2 linked regions of the Homo sapiens genome follow. Each later gene encodes a partner of the first gene's protein in a complex. Each region holds a gene or a part of one and is shown on either strand. Other genes may lie near its edges.

What was found. The genes of interacting proteins can lie anywhere in the genome.
Region 2: DRC10 (region 1) and DRC8 share a complex: the UniProt entries of both Homo sapiens proteins name them as parts of the nexin-dynein regulatory complex.

Annotation. Positions count from the first base shown.
Region 1 is NC_000012.12:113,204,070-113,211,479, reverse strand, and holds part of DRC10 (dynein regulatory complex protein 10), read left to right. Parts: intron 1-1,351; exon of another isoform or gene 1,352-1,479; intron 1,480-2,970; exon of another isoform or gene 2,971-3,220; 5' UTR 3,221-3,313; coding exon 3,314-4,042; intron 4,043-7,410. UniProt on the Homo sapiens protein: Component of the nexin-dynein regulatory complex (N-DRC), a key regulator of ciliary/flagellar motility which maintains the alignment and integrity of the distal axoneme and regulates microtubule sliding in motile axonemes.
Region 2 is NC_000001.11:244,972,502-244,979,911, forward strand, and holds part of DRC8 (dynein regulatory complex protein 8), read left to right. Parts: intron 1-7; exon of another isoform or gene 8-797; coding exon of another isoform or gene 798-926; intron 927-7,410. UniProt on the Homo sapiens protein: Component of the nexin-dynein regulatory complex (N-DRC), a key regulator of ciliary/flagellar motility which maintains the alignment and integrity of the distal axoneme and regulates microtubule sliding in motile axonemes.

The DNA of each region.
Region 1 (7,410 bases):
ATATTGAATACATTCTGCCTTGCCAAGGAACTAAACATCCTTAGCACCTGATCTGGCCTGCCTTTCTTTTTCGTTCTTAGTCACTTTGGGTGTTTCTTTGATTCCCTGCCATTCTCTTGGTGTGTTCTTTGGTTTGGTGAGTTGAAGTTATCTTTTGTGGCTTCAAGTGTCACTTCCTTCTCCTGGGCAACATAGCAAGACCCTATATCTACAAAAATAAAAATACAATAATTAGCTGGGAATGGTGGCACGTGCCTGTAGTATCAGCTACTCGGGAGCATGAGGCAGGAGGACTGTTTGAGCCCAGGAAGTCGAGGTTGCAGTGAGCCATGATCGTGCCACTGCACTCCCTGGATAATGGGAAGGCCAAGACACCATTGTCCACTGCAGTATGGCAGCTAGAGCTCAATGAGTTTAAAAGTGAGCTCATTGTCCTCCCCTCCAAATGTCCTCTCCTCTCCCAATTTCTGCCATAGTTTCTTAAGGGCCCCATCTTTCTCTACCAGTCACCCAAACTCAAAACTCTTTCACTCAAGTCCTAATGATTCTTTCTTCAAAACATTTCTCACATCTACAGACAATATGAAAATAAAAGTGGCACAGGTAACCTGTAAGTAGTAACTTACAGCTTTCATTGGTGCTTACTTCTTAGGAGAGGGGGAAAGACAGACAATAAACAAATAAACAGGTGCATATAGGGATGTCAGATGGTGATACTTAACCTGGAGAACGAACAGGATAAGGGGGAAGAGATGAAGAAGAATCAGGGTGAGGGATGGGGATGTTATGGGGGGTGTCCATCTGAGACATGGTGTTGGGGGGTGAGCAGACATCCTGGGCAGTAGGTGTTCTTTTTTTTTTTTTTTTCTTTTTTTCTTTTTTAAGAGATGGGGACTTGCTATGTTGCCTGGGCTGGTCTTGAACTCCTGGGCTCAAGCGATCCTCCCACTTCAACCTCCCAAAGTGCTAGGATTACAGGCGTGAGCCCCTGTGCTTGGCCAAGGCAGTAGGTGTTCGTTCAGCAATTGCATCAGAAATCATTAAAGTCCTGGACTTGGGATTTTCGTTTTCCTGGGTTAGTGCTATTAGTTATTTATTGAACATTTTTTACAGCGTGCAGGCTTCTCATTCATCCTGAGGACTCTTGTTTTACAGCTGAGGAAGCCCAAGCTCTGGAGGATTAAATGACCAGCCCAGAGACCCCCAGCAAGGATTTGAACCCAAGTGGGGCTGTGCAAAGCTAGTACTTTTAGCCATTGTACTATGAAAGCAATATAAATTACTGATCTCTGATTGCCCTATAGATTTTTCTGAAACAGTTATTTATTTGTCTATCTATCTTTTGAAACAGAGTCTCATTCTGTTGCCCAGGCCGGAGTACAGTGATGCAAACTTGGCTTACTGCAACCTCCGCCTCCTAGGTTCAAGAGATTCTCATGCCTCAGCCTCCTGAGTAACTGGGGTTAACCTGAGTAACAGGTGCGTACCACCATGCCTGGCATTCTCTCGTATTTTTATTAGAGACGGGGTTTCGCCATGTTGGCCAGGCTTGTCTTGAACTCCTGACCTCAGATGATCCACCTCCCTCGGCCTCCCACAGTGCTGTGATTACAGGTGTGAGCTACCATGCCTGGCCTGAAATAGTCTTTTAACTAAACTTTTTACTTTGTAATAATTGTAGATTTATAGAAAAGTTGCAAAGATAGTACAGAGAGTTCCCGTATGCCCTCCATTCTGCTCCCCCTAATGTTAACATCTTAGATAACCTTGATGTGTTTGTCAAAACCACAAAATTAGGCCCGGCACGGTGGCTCCTGTCTGTATTCCCAGCACTGGGAGGCTAAGGTGGGAGGATTGCTTGAGCCTAGGAGTTCAAGATCAGTCTGGGCAACATAGTGGAGCTCATCTCTATAAAAAGTTAAAAAATTAGCTAGGCATCGAGCACCTATAGTCCTAGCTACTTGAGAGGCTGAGACAGGAGGATCACTTGAGCCCAGTAGGTCGAGGCTGGAGTGAGCCATGGTCACACTATTGCACTCCAGCCAGGGTAACAGAGCGCCTACAAAATTAATGTTGGTACAATGCTATTAACTAAACTTTAGACTAGATTTGGATTTGGATTTGGATTTCTCCAGTTCCACTAATGTCCTTTTTCCACTCCAGAACCCAATCCAGAATACAACATTACATTTAGTGAAACAGTTTTTTAAATTGTATTTCAAAGTTATATTTCACCCACCAATTTTTAAAATCAGTACTTAAAAATGGCCAGGCGTGGTGGCTCAGGCCTGTAATCCCAGCACTTTGGGAGGCAAAGGCAGGTGGATTGAGAACAGCCTGGCAAACATGGCAAAACCCTGTCTCTACTAAAAATACAAAGATTAGCCAGGCGTGGTGGTGTGCACCTGTAGTCCCAGCTGCTCAGGAGGCTGAGGCAGGAGAATCACTTGAACCCAGGAGGCAGAGGTTGCAGTGAGCCGAGATCATGGCACTGCACTGCAGCCTGGGCGACAGAGCAAGACTCTGTCTCAAAACAAATAAACAAACAAACCAAAAAACTTTAAAATCAGTGAAAATGTGCCATTCCTAGTCCTGTTAGTCTTACACTGCATTCTGCCCTGTCCCTGTCCTGCTCAGACATAGGCTGAGGCCTGTGGTTCCGTCGCCCAGGCTGCTTGTCAGTTGGTTTCCTGCTGGTTTTGGCCAAGGGCAGTAGAAAGAAACCAGGGTATTTCTCCTCCCCCACCGCCACCCTTCTTTAATCTGCATTTCCGGCAATGTCTCTAGCTCCTCTGGGAACTGATGGCTGTGGTTCAAACTTCCCCTGGGTGACCCTGGGCCCCAGGCTCACCATCTCTTCATGTGGTGGCTTCCTGCCATTGACAATTGCGGGATGGCTTTGTCTTCCCCTGGTTGGCCTCTCAACTCTCCCATCACTGATGTAACCAGTCTCTGGTTTTAAATCCTTAGAATGCTGTCTGTATGCCTGGCTGGTCCCCGCCTGACACATGTGCCTGAGATGCCTCCACACTTGGTCTTCCTGCCCTTGTGGCCCTAACACCCTCACAAAGCTGAAAACTGCTTCCAGTGAAAGGTTCTGTGTAAAAGCGACAGAGGACCTAAGATGAACTCTTGATGTCAACAGTTGTGGTTTCTGCAGCCACACTAACCACACAGATGTCAGCACAGCTGCACTCACACCTACTTCTTCATTTTGCAGGATGGCCAGAGACAATAAAAGCACGAGACCCAAGTAGTCTACCGAAGTCTCCATCTCTGTGGACCTACAGAGGCACAGAGGGCTGCTCACAAGATGGCTTTAGACATTCTCGCCATGGCCCCTTTGTATCAGGCCCCTGCCATCAACAGAATAGGGCCAAAGACAGACCCATCTAAAAGGCCAGCTGATCCACTAAAACCCTTGGTTCTCTCTAGGACCAAACTCACCACCATTGAGGCCAAAAGGATCATGTCCATCCTGGATGAGGCGATCTACAAGGTGGAGCTGGTGACCTTGCTGTCGTATGTGGCATCCAACAGAGAGGATATGGAGGGGATGCTGGGGGAGGACGTCATGAGGGCAGTGAGAGAGCATGAGGATCTCTGCCAGGTCCTCCTTGAAAACGTCAGGTGCCTGAAAGAGAAAGAAAGGCAATTGCAGGAGCAGAAAGAGGCTGAGGAGGAAGGGTGGCTCAGAGACCGCCTCCTTTCCATAGAGCTGCAGAAATCCAGCCTCTCACCACTTATGCAGCAGATCAAAGACTCCACCAAGAACGTCCTTAGACTCTTGCTCAGCAACCCCCAGGCTGCTAGGCTCCTGCAGATGCAGACACAGGGTAGAAGTGCAGAAGCCCAGAATTTTATTGACAGCCTGATAGAGCTCCGTGGTTTCCTGTTTGAAAAACTACTCACTAGTCCCATGGAAGCGAGGGATAAGGCCCAGTTCTTACAGGATATCAGTAGACAGAATAGTAATAACCAACAAATCATTGATACTCTTGAAAAGGAATTGGCGGAGAGAATGAAGAACAGGAATGCAGAGGTATTGTTTCATAGTATTGCTGAAATTACTGAAGAAGCCACACAAATCTTTTGTTGGTTGGGTTTTTCCTCAATGATTGATTTTTTTTTTAAGATGGAGTCTCGCTCTGTTGTCCAGACTAGAGTGCAGTGGTGTAATCTCGACTCACTGCAACCTCTGCCTCCCAGGTTCAAGCGATTCTCCCACCACAGCCTCCCAAGTAGTTGGGATTACAGGCGTATGCCACCACGCCCGGCTAATTTTTGTATTTTTAGTAGAGACAGGTTTTCGCCATGTTGGCCAGGCTGGTCTAGAACTCCTGACCTCAAGTGATCCTCCTGCTTTGGCCTCCCAAAGTGCTGGCCACTGCGCCTGGCCAATTGATTGACTGATTTTTTTGAGACAGGGTCTCACTCTGTTGCCCAGGCTAGAGTGCAGTGGCATGATCACAGCACACTGCAGCCTCCATCTCTCAGGCTTAAGCAATCCTCCCATCTCACCCTCCCAAGTAGCTGAGACTACAGGTGTGTGTCACCATGCCTGGCTAATTTTTTGATTGTTTGTAAAGATGGGCTCTTGCTACGTTGCCCAGGTTGGTCTCGAACTTCTGGGTTCAAGAGATCCTTCCGCCTTGGCCTCCCAAAGTGCTGGGGTTACAGGCATGAGCCACTATGCCCGGCCTCCCCAGTGATTTTTTTTTTTTTAAGATGGAGTCTTGCTGTGTCACCCAGGCTAAAGTGCAGTGGCAACATCTTGATTCACTGCAACCTCCGCCTCCTGTGTTGGGAATGGGTGCTCGGTGTCGCCAAAATCAACACTGAGACAAAGGATCTCTCAGCAAGGCTAGTTTACTCTCTGCAGAAAGGGTGCTGCTTGCTAGCAGTCTTGCCACAAGAGCACACATGAACAAAAGAGACGGGGTCATTTATAACCTGACGCATCCACCCTACTGCTGTGTCCAGTTTCCATTGGCTGGAACAGGACCTCACATTCTGTACTCAACCCGATTGGCTAGCAATTTAGAACTTCCCAAAAGAGGCAAAGGCAGAGGGAAACAAAGGAAGAGAGCAAGTAACTCCTGGAATGCTGAGAGAGGCAAAAACACCTCCAAATAAGGAAGAGGAATAGGCTATGACCTAATGCTTGCTTGGACCGGTTCAGGTATGCCAAGGCAAATATCTAAGCTAAAATGTGGGAGCTAAGAACAGAGTATATTGATTTCTTTTTTTTTTTTTTTTTTGAGGCGGAGTCTTGCTCTGTCACCCAGGCTGGAGTGCAGTGGTGTGATATCAGCTCACTGCAAGCTCCGCCTCCAGGGTCACACCATTCTCCTGCCTCAGCCTCCCGAGTAGCTGGGACTACAGGTGCCCACCACCATACCCAGCTAATTTTTTTTTTGTATTTTTAGTAGAGATGGGGTTTCACCGTGTTAGCCAGGATAGTCTCGATCTCCTGACCTCGTGATCCGCCCACCTCTGCCCCCCAAAGTGCTGGGATTACAGGCGTGAGTCACCACGCCCGGCCTATTGATTTCTTTTTTTTTTTTTTTTTTTTTTGAGACGGAGTCTCGCTCTGTCGCCCAGGCCGGAAGCCGGACTGCGGACTGCAGTGGCGCAATCTCGGCTCACTGCAAGCTCCGCTTCCCGGGTTCACGCCATTCTCCTGCCTCAGCCTCCCGAGTAGCTGGGACTACAGGCGCCCGCCACCGCGCCCGGCTAATTTTTTGTATTTTTAGTAGAGACGGGGTTTCACCTTGTTAGCCAGGATGGTCTCGATCTCCTGACCTCATGATCCACCCGCCTCGGCCTCCCAAAGTGCTGGGATTACTGGCATGAGCCACCGCGCCCGGCCTGATTTCTTTATTACAGCTAGCAGAATTGAAGAATATTAACACAGGTCTTCGAGTAAATTTTGGTTCTAAGAGAGGTTACTACCTATTCTGAATTAGACTGGGAGGAAAGTCCCTTTGAAGAGGAACCTCTATTTCATTTTCTACATCCTGGGTTCAAGCAATTCTTCTGGCTCAGCCTCCCGAGTCTCTGGGACTACAGGTGCCCGCCACAATGCCCAGCTAATTTTTTTATTTTTAGTAGAGATGGGGTTTCACCGTGTTGGCCAGGCTGGTCTTGAACTCCTGACCCTAAGTGATCTGCCCGCCTTGGCCTCCCAAAGTGCTGGGATTATAGGCGTGAGCCACTGCGCCTGGCCTAAGTAGCTTTTTTTTTTTAAAAAAAAATTCATTTACTCCACAAATTATTGTAAGTACTTACTAGGTGCCAGGTCTTATAAATAAGCCCATGTGGTTCCAGCCTCATGGAGTTCACAGTAAGGAAGGTAGGAATTAAAGAATTCATTTAATTACAGTTTTGAGAAGTACAATGTACTTCTCAAAGGGAGTGTTACAGGAGAACTTAACACCAAAAGGTCAGGGACATTGAAGCCAAGATATGAAGAATGCGAGGGCGTGAACCAGGCAAGTGCAGTGAGGAAGAACCTTCCAAGCTAGGGATCAGCGAACTATTTTTTTTTTTTTGAGACAGTCTTACTCTATGCCCAAGCTGGAGTATAATGGCATGATCTCAGCTTACTGCAGCCTTCACCTCCCAGGTTCAAGTGATTCTTGTGCCTCAGCCTCCTGAGTAGCTGGGATTACAGGCATGTGCCACCACGCCTGGCTAATTTTTGTATCTTTTAGTAGAGACAGAGTTTTGCCATTTTGGCCAGGCTGTTCTTGAATTCCTGGTCTCAAGTGATCCTCCCACCTCCCACCTCAGCCTCCCAAAGTGCTGGAATTACATGTGTGAGCCACCGCACCTGGCCCCAACTTTTTCTACAAAGGGCCAGATAGTAAAAACATTAGGCTTTGTGGGCCAGATGGTCTGTTGCAATTACTCAACTCAGCTTTGCTGTTATAGGGGAAAAGCAGCCACAAACAATATGTAAATGAATGGGCTGTGTTCCAACAAAACTTTACTTACAAATACAAGTGGCTGGCTGGATTCGGCCTGTGGGCCATAGTTTGCCAACCCCTGTTCCAGGTGGAGGGTAGAGTGCACCTCAGTAATGAGACAAGAATAAGCCTGGCTAGTTCAGAAACCCAGAGAATGCCAGTGAGCTAGAGGGAAGGGACAAAGATGGGCTGGGAAAGCAGGGGAAGGAGACAGATCACACAGGGCCTTTGAGGCCTAATCAAGGAATTTGGTTTCTAGAAGTTTTTAGTTTTAGAGACAAGATCTTGCTCTGTCACCCAGGCTTGAGTGCATTGGCACGTTCATAGCTCACTGCGGCCTTGACCTCCTGGGCGATTCTCCTGCCTTAGCCTTTTGAGTAGCTGAAACTACAGGCATGCGCCACCACTCTTGGCTAATTTTTTACATTTTTGTAGAGAC
Region 2 (7,410 bases), on another chromosome or scaffold:
TTTGTAGGTGATTTGTATGTACATTAACTTTCGAGAAGGCCGGGCGCGGTGGCTCACGCCTGCAATCCCAGCACTTTGGGAGGCTGAGGCGGGCGGATCACGAGGTCAAGAGATCGAGACCATCCTGGCCAACATGGTGAACCCCGTCTCTACTAAAAATACAAAAATTAGCTGGGCGTGGTGGCACGCCCTGTAGTCCCAGCTACTCAGGAGGCTGAGACAGGAGAATTGCTTGAACCGGGGAGGCGGAGGCTGCAGTGAGCCAAGATCACACCACTGCACTCCAGCCTGGCGACAGAGTAAGACTCCGTCTCAAAAAAAAAAAAAAACAAAAACAAAAAACAAAGTTCGAGAAGCACTCATGTGCTGTATCTCATTTATTGTTAACAGTTTTATGGATTAACTAATTGCAGTTTGTGAAGGGTATTATGAAATAAAGGCATTTTGTTAGAGGATAAACTAAGTAGAGACTCATTTTGGTGGTAAGATCTTTTTATGGAAATAGTCTATTACTATATTTGATTGTCAGCTACTGTATTTTGAATTTTCAGAAATTACGTCTAACCAATTAATCAGAATTGATTAAGTTTTGAGGATTCACTCAACTAAACTCATAAAAGACTGATGTGCAAACCTGAATGATTTATTAATTTAAATAAGGGTATATACATTGACTTGAAGGCTGATTTTGCCAATATACTAATATAATAATTTTGGCAATATACTAATATAATAATATACTGTTTTATGGGTACTAAGCTTCGGGTAGTGTGAATTTGTATTTCAGAAGTCATTTGATGACCGTGGAATCACACAAAAGAAAGGATAATTTTGAAGGATGTGTTCAGTACCCTCTAAGTTCCAAAAGATCTGGGACCATTTCTGATCTGTTAATACTGAGTGTTGTGCAGAGTGCTTGGAACGTGGTAGGTAATCAATAAATATTTGTTGAATTCAGAACATTTGAATTAATCAAAGACAGCTTATGAGATTTTAACCAAAGCATTCCTAGCTATTTTCCCCAAACTTATTCTATACCTAAAAGTACACAAAACTCGTTTTAGGTCTCTTTTCCCCTCTGCTTTACCGGTAAGATACATTCTTCTATTCCATCTGGCTCAACAAAACGTTTTATTTCACAGTGCCACGGTATTCACTAGCATGTCTTTAAAAAACAACTACAAAAAACCTCATTGTAGAAATACACATATGTTTTAAATAGTTCATCCTTAATATTGAGATTTCTAAAAGTTCTAAAGGGGGAATAAGTTTCAGGGTACCTATCCTATCCACTCTTCTTCAATATTTAGAGATTAACTTTGATAGAAGTATTGAGAATATTGATAAGAAAAATTACCTAAATTAGAAGGGGCTATTGTGCTCATAAAATTTTTTTCTAAGATTATGTACGTTGAAGTTGTTATACTTATTTGTAGCATTTTTTGCTTTCATACAGTATAATTTATTTTTTCATAGATTAAAAATTATACAGAATTATATTAGCTAAAAGTTTAACCTTTAGAACCAAATTATTTTTAAAACCACTTTTTTAACTGAAAGAAGAATGTTTGAAACGGGATGAGAAAAAATATTTTTGAAGGTTTATTATTTTTCCAAAGTTTCCTCAGCCAGAACATTTTTTGTTTTGTTCTTTCTTTTCCTTCTGTTTTGTCTGTTTAAATGGAGAGTCAATGCAATTGTTGATTCTTTGGCTCCTTAAATCTTATTGTTTCTGTCTCTTAGAGAATTTTATATAGGACTGGAAGGATCTTCTGTTTGTAATTAGACTCACGTCTAGGAAACAAACTGCTTAGTTATAAAATTTGAACTTTTGGCAGCCAGTGAGCTTTGGAAAGTAAGAACTTTTTAGTAAGCTGCAGATATTAAAAGCTCACTCTAGGATTTACTATTTTTGTTTCTATTAAAATATTCTTTGTTACTTTGCGTGCTTTGATAACATTGCTTGATAAAGTGCCTCTAATTCAATTATCACCTCCTAAATGGAAGAGGTTTTACAAGGTTTGTTGTTTTGTTTCTGATTTCCTTCATTGTGCCACTCTTTTGAAAACCCAACATTTGGAAATATAAAGTAAAAAACAGAAATTTCAGGTGCCTATTACTTTATAAAAAGGGTTCCCTTAAATAACGTCTTTGTTTTTTTTTTCTTCTTTTATTTTGAGACAGGGTCTTGCTCTGCTGCCCAGGCTGGAATGTGGTGGTGCAACCTCTGTTGCCTAAGCTGGAATGTAGTGGTGCCATCACGGCTCACTACAGCCTCGACCTCCTGGGCTCAAGCGATTCCCCCGACCTCAGCCTCCCAAGTAGCTGGGACTACAGGCGCAAGCCACCATGCCCGACTAATTTTTTTAATTTGTAGAGACAGGGTTTCACTGTGTTGGCTACGCTGGTCTCAAACTCTTTATTTTTTTTATTTTTATTTTTTTTTTGAGATGGAGTCTCGCTCTGTCGCCCAGGCTGGAGTGCAGTGGCACGATCTTGGCTCACTGCAAGCTCTGCCTCCCAGGTTCACACCATTCTCCTGCCTCAGCCTCCCGAGTAGCTGGGACTACAGGTGCCTGCCACCACGCCCGGCTAATTTTTTGTATTTTTAGTAGTGATGGGGTTTCACCGTATTAGCCAGGATGGTCTCGATCTCCTGACCTTGTGATCCGCCCACCTCGGCCTCCCAAAGTGCTGGGATTACAGGCGTGAGCCACCACGCCTGGCTCGAACTCTTGAGCTCAAGTGATCTGCCTGCCTTGGCCTCCCAAAGTGCTGAGATTACAGGCATGAGCCACCCTGCCTGGCCTCATAGTAACTGTCGATAGTATAGAGTGTAGCCTGTGGGACAGTACAAAGGTTGAGCTTTGAAGTAAGACTTGAATTTGAATTCCGTCTTCCCCAAGCTCTAATTATCTGATCTTAGCCGAGATGCTAAACATAAGTAGCTTCAAGTTCCTCAGATGTAAAGTGGGGATAATTATACCCCCAATATTTCATAATGTTGTAATGGGGACAATGTTTTCTTATTCATTTTTACATCCCCAGCACCTGCCACAGTGCCTGGCATCAAAGGAATGCTGAGGCCGGCTCACGCCTGTAATCCTAGCACTTTGAGAGGCCCAGGCAGGTGGATCACTTGAGGTCAGGAGTTCAAAACCAGCCTGGCCAACATGGTGAAACCCTGTCTCTACTAAAAATACAAAAAATTAGCTGAGTGTGGTGGCGCGTGCCTGTAATCCCAACTACTCAGGAGGCTGAGGCAGGAGAATCGCTTGAACCCAGGAGGTGGAGGTTGCAGTGAGCTGAGATCACACTACTGCACTCCAGCCTGAGTAACAGGGTGAGACTCTGTCTCAAAATAAATAAATAAATAAATAAAAAATACAATAAAGGAATGCTGAATAAATGGGAAAGAAAGTGTTTGGTACGTATCTAGTGAATTAGTAAGTATTAGTATCTGCTTAACATAAAACATAAGAGTTGGCCAGGCGTGGTGGCTCCTGCTTGTAATTCCAGCACTTTGGGAGGCCGAGGTGGGGAGATCACCTGAGGTCAGGAGTTCGAGACCAGCCTGACCAACATGGTGAAACGCTCTCTCTACGAAAAATACAAAAATTAGTTGGGTGTGGTGGTGGTTGCCTGTTATCCCAGCTACTCTAGAGGTTGAGGCAGGAGAATTGCTTGAACCTGGGGGATGGAGGTTGCAGTGAGCCTAGATCGCAGCATTGCACTCCAGCCCAGGCAACAGAGCAAGACTCCATCTCAAAACAAAAAAACAAATAAAACATAAGAGTTAAGAAAACTTTTAAGTCTTACCAATTGGGATCATGCATAATGCATTCCTGCATATTTCTGGGGTAATTTAATAAGTTTTCTTCCTGTTTTAGACCAATATAAATATCCGGTTAAGACTAAGCAAACAAGAAGACTAGCTTTTTGAAGCCTAATTTGTTTCCTCTTATTCAGAATAAAAAAAAATTTGAAGAAAAACTGGACTGAAATTTGTTTTTGCTCTGATATATAAAATTTACAGAAATGTCTCAAGAATAGTCATAATTTTAAAGATCAAATGGACAGTGAGATACTACCTCACGCCTGTTAGGAAGGCTATTATCACCAGAAGTCCCCCAAATAATAAGTATTGGTGAGGATGTGGAGAAACTGGAACCCTCGTGGACTGTTGGTGGCAATGAGAAATGGTGCAGCTACTATGGAAAGTGGTATGGCGGTTCCTCAGAAAGTTAAAAGTTGAGTTACCATGTGACCCAGCAGTTCCACGTGTGGGTATATATCCACAGTAATTGAAAGCAAGGCCTCGAAGAGATATTTGCACAACCATGTTCATAGCACATTGTTCACAGTAGGTAAAAGGTGGAAGCAAGCCAAGTGTCCATCAGCGGATGAATGAACAAACCAAATGTGGTATATACGTGTAGTGAAATATTATTCAGCCTTCAAAGGAGGAAATTCTGACACATGCTACCGCTTGAATGAACCTGAAAGACATCATGCTAAGTGAAATAAGCCAGTCAAAAAGACAAATACTCTGTGATTCCACTTACATGAGGTACCTAGAGAAGTCAAATTCATGGAGACAGAAAGTAGATTGCTGGTTGCCAGGGGCTGTGGGGAGAGGAGAATGGGAAGTTGTTTAAGGAGTGTAGAGTTCCAGTTCTGCAAGATGAAGGAAGTTCTGGAGATTGGTTGCCCAGCAGTGTGAAGGTACTTAACACTATTGAACTATATGGTTAAAAGTGGTTAATACAGTAAGTTTTACATTATGTGTATTTTACCACATTTTAGTAAATAGAAAATGTTGAGTACATTCAGAATGAAAGAAATGGTACATTGTTTTTCAAAGGCAATTTGGAAATTTGTATTGAAGAATAAATGATGATGGCTAGGCAAGGTGGCTCACATCTGTAAACTCAGCACTTTGGGAGGCTGAGGTAGGAGGATTACTTGAGACCAGGAGTTCGAGACCAGCCTGGGCAACATGCTGAGACCTCATCTTTGCTAAAAATAAAATAAATAATAATAAAGAAGTCGGGGGTTCCCTCTGTTGGCTTTGGAGCCCCCATCCCTCTGTCTCTGTACAGGGAAGCTTCTTCCTTCTCCTTTCTTGCTCCTTCTTGCCTGTTAAACTCTCTATTTCTTAAAACCAAAAAAATAAAAAATAATAATAAAAAGTGATGTCCACATGCTTTGAGCTTTAATATACTTCTGGATATTTATCCTTAGAAATATATTCTGAAAAGAATAAAAAATGCTCTAAGCACAAAAATGATCAACATAAAGTTATCTATAAATTTGAAAATATAGATAACATTTGCATGTCCAACTAATGGGGCATACAAAATAAATGGTTGTATGTCCACTTGTTGGGTTGCAGCCAAATATATAAAAATTATATGTGTAAATGGGTAAGGACACGTGGGGGAGCCCAGGAGATGATGATGATAGCAGGGTGATTAGACTTTTAGGGGCACTTATTTTTAAAATCTCATTTTAATGTCAGTTCTACAAAACTTTAAAAACCCACTTAAATATGCTAATTAAAAATTATTCTTACCCACTTGTGAAAGTGTGTTTACCAGATCCTGTACTTGACAATCCTTTGTAAACCTCTAGTATGGATTTTATAGATATTAAGACTGTAAAAAAGTAATTTTAGTTTTTATTTTTATTTTTTAAGAGATGAGATCTAGGCCGGGCGCAGTGGCTCACGCCTGTAATCTCAGCACTTTGGGAGGCTGAGGCTGGCGGATCGCCTGAGGTTGGAAATTCAAGACCAGCCTGGCCAACACGGGAAAACCCCGTCTCTATTAAAAATACAAAATTAGCTGGGCATGGTGGCGCATGCCTGTTATCCCAGCTACTCGGGAGGCTGAGGTAGGAGAATCACTTGAACCCGGGAGGCGGAGGTTGTGATGAGCTGAGAGCACCATTTTACTCCAGCCTAGGCAACAAGAGCGGAACTCCGTCTCAAAAAAAAAAAAAAAAGAGACGAGGTCTCACTCTGTCACCCTGGCTGGGGTGCAGTGGCTTGATCACAGCTCACTGTAGCCTCTACTTTCTGGGCTCAAGTGATCTTCCCACTTTGGCCTCCCAAGTAGCTGGGACTGCAGGGGCGTGCCACTGTGCCCAACTAACATTTTTATTTTTGGTAGAGATAAGATCTTGCTCTGTTGCCCAGGCTAGTCTCAAACTCCTGGCCTCAGGCAATCCTACCACCTTGGCCTCCCAAAGTGCTGGGATTACAGGCTTGAGCCACCACCTCTGGCCCATAATTTTATTTTTTTAAATGCACTAGTAAAATTGGGAGTTTAAAAACCTGGACTAGAATTTGGACATTGCCTTTTTTTTTATTCTTTTTAAGATTTTGCTTGTTAGTGTCAATTTATCTGACCTTTGGTTTGAAGAATTTCCATCTAAAGAGGAAGATAGGCAGCTAAGGAGACAATGATACAATAATGTGATAAGTGCTATGATAGTTGCACATGTATGATGATTGGGTGCCTGGGGAGAGTCACCTGATTCACACACACCCTCTTTAAATTATAGCCCCTTTTTATTCCCTCTCATAGCTATTTGTTTTTTTCCTCTTTCATACTATATTTTGTAATTGCCTGTAGATGTGTTGTTTGATGTCTGCTTCTCCTAGACTCTTAACTTCCAAAAGGATAGGGGTCATGCTCATGCATATACCCAGAGCATGGCATATAGCTCAGTATTTGCTGAATGTTGAATCAAAGTTGGCTTTCTGAAGGAGATAACCGAAGCTTATCTTTTTTTTTTTTTTTTTTTTTTTTTTTTTTGAGACGTAGTCTTGCTCTTGTCGCCCAGGTTGGAATGCAGTGGCGTGATCTCGGCTCACTGCAACCTCTGCCTCCTGGGTTCAAGCGATTCTTATGTCTCAGCCTCCCAAGTAGCTGGGATTACAGACATGTGCCACCATGCTGGGCTCATTTTTTTATATTTTTAGTAGACGGGGTTTCACCATACTGGCCAGTCTGGTCTCGAACTCCTGACCTCAAATGATCCGCCTGCCTTGGCCTCCCAAAGTACTAGGATTACAGGTGTGAGCCACTGCGCCTGGCCTAATTTTTGTATTTTTAGTAGAGACGGGGTTTCACCATGTTGGCCAGGCTGGTCTGGAACTCCTGACCTCATGTGATCCGCCCACCTTGGCCTCCCAAAGTGTTGGTATTACAGGTGTGAGCCACGACTCCCAGCCCCAGGCTTATCTTGAAGGTGTAATAGCACAGAGAACAAGTAGGGGATGGATATTTCAGGAAGAGAAGAAATAACATACTTGAAATTGTGAAGACTCAATATGGCCGAAATTTAGGATGGGTTAGGAGATGTGGGAATTTTTATTCTTAAAGCATTGGTGAGTGATTAAAA